2 separate regions of the Homo sapiens genome follow, and region 2 is linked to region 1. Evidence: fine-mapped expression QTL. A gene starts in region 1. The other region holds a variant in brackets. All regions are shown on one strand. Distances are between the middles of the regions.

The links. PIP is the estimated chance that this variant, and not a neighbour inherited with it, causes the effect.
Region 2: its variant is fine-mapped to the expression of USP20 in whole blood (TOPMed, PIP 0.92).

What each region holds. Positions count from the first base shown.
Region 1 is chr9:129,834,200-129,837,100 of GRCh38, reverse strand. It overlaps USP20 (ubiquitin specific peptidase 20), which reads right to left and starts at 1,643. Exons shown (of 26, transcript NM_001110303.4): 1 at 1,602-1,643. It overlaps C9orf78 (chromosome 9 open reading frame 78), which reads left to right and starts at 1,826. Exons shown (of 9, transcript NM_016520.3): 1 at 1,826-1,962; 2 at 2,335-2,394. The coding sequence starts at 1,880. RefSeq lists an enhancer at 893-1,393 and silencers at 1,365-1,514, 1,545-1,894.
Region 2 is chr9:129,886,695-129,889,595 of GRCh38, reverse strand. It overlaps FNBP1 (formin binding protein 1), which reads left to right. Exons shown (of 17, transcript NM_015033.3): 17 at 1-2,409. Among named protein-coding and RNA genes, the nearest start is that of MIR6855, 19 kb to the right of the region's middle. RefSeq lists enhancers at 1-626, 581-670, 1,001-1,400. The variant T/G (reference allele first, on the strand shown) is at 1,292.

The DNA.
Region 1 (2,901 bases):
ACAGCACAGGTGGTGGTTATCACTGGGTCCTCTGGCCTCATGGAGCAAGGGTGGGAGCAGCTCATCTGTACCCTGGGACTTCAGCTGAGGAGGAGGGTCCAGAAATGCCCCTGGCCTTCTTGCCCTTTCCTTAGTAGTGTCCAGTACCCCCTGGTGGATGGGCTGCTTGATGGGCAGATTCAGAGCCACCTCTGAGAGCGTGAGAGCTGCAGACGTTGACCCCCTGGACTCCTGCAGCAATTCCCAAGGAGCCTCTCCATCATCTGACAGGGACTCCGTATCCAGTGAGTGCACGTGCATCTGGGTTTGGCTGAACCAGTCTGCAGAGGGCAAGACTTTGAGACTTTAATATATGGCTTTTGACCAAAGATAAAACGCTGGTGCAAGAAGTCCCGAGTCTACTATTTTTTCCAGCCCAAGGAAGAGAAGAACAATCTCAGTGGAGACTGTTCCAGAGAAAACGTAAGGCATTCTAGAAATGCTGCCCTGCTTCGGAATGGTCTTCCAGAAAGGGGAACCCCAGACAGCCCCCATCGGCCCCTCCCCCTAGCCAATGAGATGTAACAGCAGCTGCAGCAGCAGCAAACATCTACTGCACTCCTACCGTGCCAGGCCCTGTGCAAACCGTGCGGCAGAGACTGACCTGCAACCAATTCCTGTTCCACCTCCTAGCTGGGTAACTTGAGGCGTGCACTGCCCCTCGGAGACTCCGCATTCTCATTTGTAAAACGAAAAACAATCTACCTCAAAGGATTGCTGGGAGAATTCAATGAGATGATGCTTTGCCCAGGGCCTGCCACATAGTAACTGCTTAATAAGAGGTAGTTCTCAAAGTAAGGGATGACACTGAGAAAAGGAAAACTACTGTTACTTAAGGGGTTCTTAAAAGTCCTAGAAGCCATTATTTATGCATTTAGGTATTTCCTAAGCGTTTGCTGATACCAGTTTTTCAAATAAACTTTATCCTCACAGCATCTTCGGGGTGGAAGGGGCAGAGGGTAGAGCGACAGACCTGCCGAAGGAGGAAAACCAGACCCGTGAAGGTCCAGGGGGGTGGCCGGCAAGCACCGAGGAGGAGTCCCCCGGCTCAAACCCTCTTGCGTGGCTTCAAAACATCAGACGCGCCTCTCCTCGCGGAGAAGCTGGGGGCCATTATTTGTGAGGCAGTCGGCGCTGGGACTCTAAGTCAGCACCGCAGAGAAGTGGTCATCTTTTGTTCCGAAAGAAAAAAACGCACGTCAGGGCTCAGAGCCCGAGGAAAGAAAAGTCAGCGCCCGAGACGCGAGACGCCACGCGGATGCTTTCAACGCTAGGTCAGGCCCCGGCAGAAATGAGAGGGGGGCGGCCCCGGTTCTGGAGAAGCCACGAGCCCCCAGGGAGCTCAGAGTGGGGTGGTGCTGGGGCCCAGAGGCCCCCCTGGGCGCCGACCGGAGGAGGGGAGAGGGGCGGCGGCGGCCGGGGGGGTCCCGGGCTCCGCTCACCGGGCCGCTGCGTCTGGCGTACCTGGCGAAGCCAGGCCCTGTCAGCCCGGAGCCGGGCTGGGGTCGCCAATGCTCAGAGGCCCGGCCCACAGAAGCAGCCGGTGGCGGCCCGGAACTCACCTGCACTCGCAACTGCGCCGCCGCCGCCTGTCAGTCAAGCGCGCCCCCTCTGAGGCGACGCGCAGGGTTGTGGGGCCGTCTGGCGACGCCCCACCTCCTTCCCTCTGCCGTCCAATCGGAAGAGGCTGACGCCAGGAGAGGGGGCGTGGCCACGCGGACTGTGCGTGCCGGGGGCGGGGCCAGACGGGGCAGGCGCTCTGACCGCTCTGCCGCGCGCCGGAAGCAGCCTGGGCCGCTGCGCAGAGGCGCGGCGGCTGTACAACTCGGCCGTTGTCACCATGCCGGTCGTCCGGAAGATTTTCCGTCGCCGCCGGGGCGACTCGGAGTCAGAGGAAGATGAGCAGGACTCAGAGGAGGTTCGGTGCGTTTGGGGCGGGGCTCCCATAGGCTTGGTAAAGATAGACTTGTTTGGGGGACTCACCACCGGCTCGGCGCTTCGCTGACATTGTTAACTGTGAGCTCGGGTGGTGGTTCCTTCTGCGGACGCAGAAATTGAGGCTCAAGGGGTGAGGCCACCGCCCCAAGCTCGAACGGTTGAGAGAGATGCCTCCGGGATGCGCAGTGGCTCTGACTCCCGGTGGGTCTAGGCACAAGGTCGTCCTCTGGACCACTGTGCTGGTGGCTCAGTAGCTGGGCTGGGATGCCCTCGAAGGTGCCTTATTGGCTCTGTTAGCTTTGGATTCCGCGGGGAATCACTCAGCTTATGCATTGCTGCTTCTTCTTCTTTTTAAAGATTAAAACTGGAAGAGACCAGAGAGGTACAGAACTTGAGGAAGAGGCCCAACGGGGTGAGGTGGGTACCACGCGGGGAGGAGGAGGAGGCGGCGGGGACGACAGACACATCCGCGTCCGGGTCGCTGTCACAAATATCTCCTCAGACGTAGATTTTTCTCTTGACACACTGTACACCTTCCACTGCCCAACTTGGAGAACAGCGTTCTTTGCAAATGTTTAACCAGGACATGCCCTGAGCTGTGTCGTCTCGGGGTGTGCTCCAGAGATACAGAAACAGATCACTAACTCGCGTTTTTTATTAAAACCAATTAATTGTGAAATGCATATCGATCGTTAAGAGTTTGTATAATTTAGAAAAGTATAGTCAAGACGATAAAAAGCACCCATAATTCTCCCATCCGGAAATGATCAGTGTTAACATTTTTTTTCCTTGCAGAGCCACCCAAGAATGCACTGGTATTAATATTGAATACTCTTTCCAATCTGTTTTTTTTCGTCTCTCTCTCTCAGATTGTGAACAACTTTCTATGTACTTTTATTCCCTGTTCTTTTCAACTCATTATGA
Region 2 (2,901 bases), 52 kb before region 1:
TTGTTGTTGTTTTTTTTTTTTTTTTGAGACGGGAGTCTCGCTCTATTGTTCAGACTGGAGTGCAGTGGCATGATCTCGGCTCACTACAACCTCCACCTCCTGGGTTCCAGCGATTCTCCTGCCTCAGCCTCCCAAATAGCTGTGATTACAGGCGTGCACCACCACGCCCGGCTAATGTTTGTATTTTTAGTAGAGACAGGGTTTCACCGTGTTGGTCAGGCTGGTCTCAAACTCCTGACCTCAGGTGATCCGCCCGCCTCAGCCTCCCAAAGTGCTGAGATTACAGGTGTGAGCTACCGCACCCCGCCGAGGTTAGCACTTTCATCACCAAAGACCCCGTGCCTCTCGTGGTCCTTTGAGGGATCCCGCCGCCACCACCCTTGTATTTTATCACGTGCTCTTCAGGGCATGTGGAATTCGTTGAGTTTGCTTTTAGAGCCAAGTTTCTTTCCCTGTGTGGGTTTTTGAGGAAAACCTGAGGTCCCCTAATCTGTGGCCACCACCCCCCCCCCCCGCCACGCCTTAGAGCAGAGCAGCCCCTCCTCTCATTTGGTGCAGAAACAGTCAAGAGGAACCATTGGCCTAGAGCTCCTGTGACCGAGAGCGCCACGGAAGCCTGGGGATGACGTCGGGCAGCTTTATTCTTTGCTTGGCTTTGGTAACTAGGTGGTCCCCTCAAGCATCCTCAGTTCCTCTTGCTGTTTATGAATCTAAGACAAGGAAGTCCTATAGAAGCCAAAGGGACAGGGACGGAAAGGACAGGTCCCAAGGGATGGGGCTGTCTTTACTTGTGGAAACCAGGAAATTGCTCCTCTCAGCCAACCAAGGTTGACCACACACCACCCTTCCGGAGCAGCTCAGTCAGCCCTCGGGGACGAGAAACCACAAGCGCAGAGACGCTGAGGCCCAGGCAGGTGAAGAGGAAGTGGCTTTGGGTTTTTAAAGTAGGTGAGCGTGAGCCTCTCTGACTGCTTCTTCCCCGGGGGGGACTGCAAACCGCTCAGGGTTGCGGCAGAGCCATGGACTTCCGGTCCCTGCAACGGGTGACCTAAGCGTGGTGCACCCATCAGTCACGCAGGAGGACTGACTTGACAGACGAAAGACAAGCCCGGATGACACAGGGTGAGAAGAGTCAGGGCCGCACCTCTGTCCCTGCAAACCAACAGGTGCATGGTGAGTGTGGCAGTCCCCACAGCTCCACAATGGGCTCCCCCGCCAACGGGGACGACAGGGATCTTCAGGAACTTCTGACCTCACCAAGTCAAGTGGACCACTCTCCACTCCACGAGGA[T/G]GTGAAACGGTTCTTTAAAATGGGATTTTAGAGCCTCGGGAATGCATGTGCGTCACATCTTTCATATTATGGGTCAGGATAGATTCATTTCTTGCAACATAGTGGAAAAGATATAAGCTGCAGTAATTTGCTCTTTGAATGACCGTCACCCCCAGTATAGGATATGCTTGTATCCCCCCGTCACTCCTCCGCCTGTTTTTTAAACTTTTCCACCACCTGCGTCCAAAAAGAATGTTATAGCGAGTGCTCTTAAATGTTGAACCTGGGTGTTGCTTCCGGGCCAGTCTGCGTGGCTCCATGAAAAGCTCACTGCTGCCCCAGCCGGGCTTCTTAGAGGAGGTCAGTTGTCCTATGTATCATCATTTACTCTGGGAATCCTACTGTGAAATCATGTCTGTATTTTTCTGGAGCAGTTCACATAGAGTAGAATGTGGAATTTCCCGTGAACGTCTCCTTCCTCCCCCGTATCTGCCGCCTGTCACTTCGCCACCGTGCTAGAATACTGTTGTGTTGTAAGATGACTAATTTTAAAAGAACCTGCCCTGAAAAGTTCTTAGAAACGCAGTGAAAGGGAGGAACTTGTCCTTTACCCAGTTTTTCCTTTGTAGGATGGGAAAGTATAAAAAGGCACAGAAGGTTGTCATGGGCTGTTCCTTGGGGGTTTTTATCCTGCTCACCGTGGAGATAAGCCTGCGGCTTGTCTAACCAGCGCAGCGCAAAGGTCTCGATGCCTTTTGGTAACATCCGTCATTGCAGAAGAAAGTTTACACGACGTCAAAAAGTGACGTTCATGCTAAGTGTTTTTCCAGAAATATTGGTTTCATGTTTCTTATTGGCTCTGCCTCCTGTGCTTATATCATCCAAAAACTTTTTAAAAAGGTCCAGAATTCTATTTTAACCTGATGTTGAGCACCTTTAAAATGTTCGTATGTGTGTTGCACTAATTCTAAACTTTGGAGGCATTTTGCTGTGTGAGGCCGATCGCCACTGTAAAGGTCCTAGAGTTGCCTGTTTGTCTCTGGAGATGGAATTAAACCAAATAAAGAGCTTCCACTGGAGGCTTGTATTGACCTTGTAACTATATGTTAATCTCGTGTTAAAATAAAATATAACTTGTGGCTCCGTGTCACGGGACTGTTTTGTTGCATGAAGATATGACCCTAGTTGTGGAAGCAGCCTGGTGTCATTGGAAGCCCCCTGGGCTGGGGAGCTGGCCCCTGGGAGGAGCTGGAGACCTAGATAGCTCTCAGTTCCACCCCCATCCACGGTGGAGGGGGAGGCTCTCAGACCGTGGTGACGTGGAATTCGGGCTGATGTAGTGCGAGGATTGCGAGAGGCTGCTTATGGCCAGGAGTATTTTTTGCATGCACATTCAACTGGTTGCTGCTCTAGCTCTTTGGGGACCTCATTGCTTGGGGCTGGGGCAGGAGGAGGTGGTGAAATGAGGGCACACCTGAGTTTCATTATTTATCTGGTATCACCAGTGCTCAAGCCGGTACTCCTGGTGGCGTGGCTGGAATCACTAGTTTCTGTGAAGCTGCAGGCAGTGCGGAGCTGTTTCACGTGGACAACTCGAAAGGGCAGCAGCCTTGTGCCTGGCACTGGCTGGA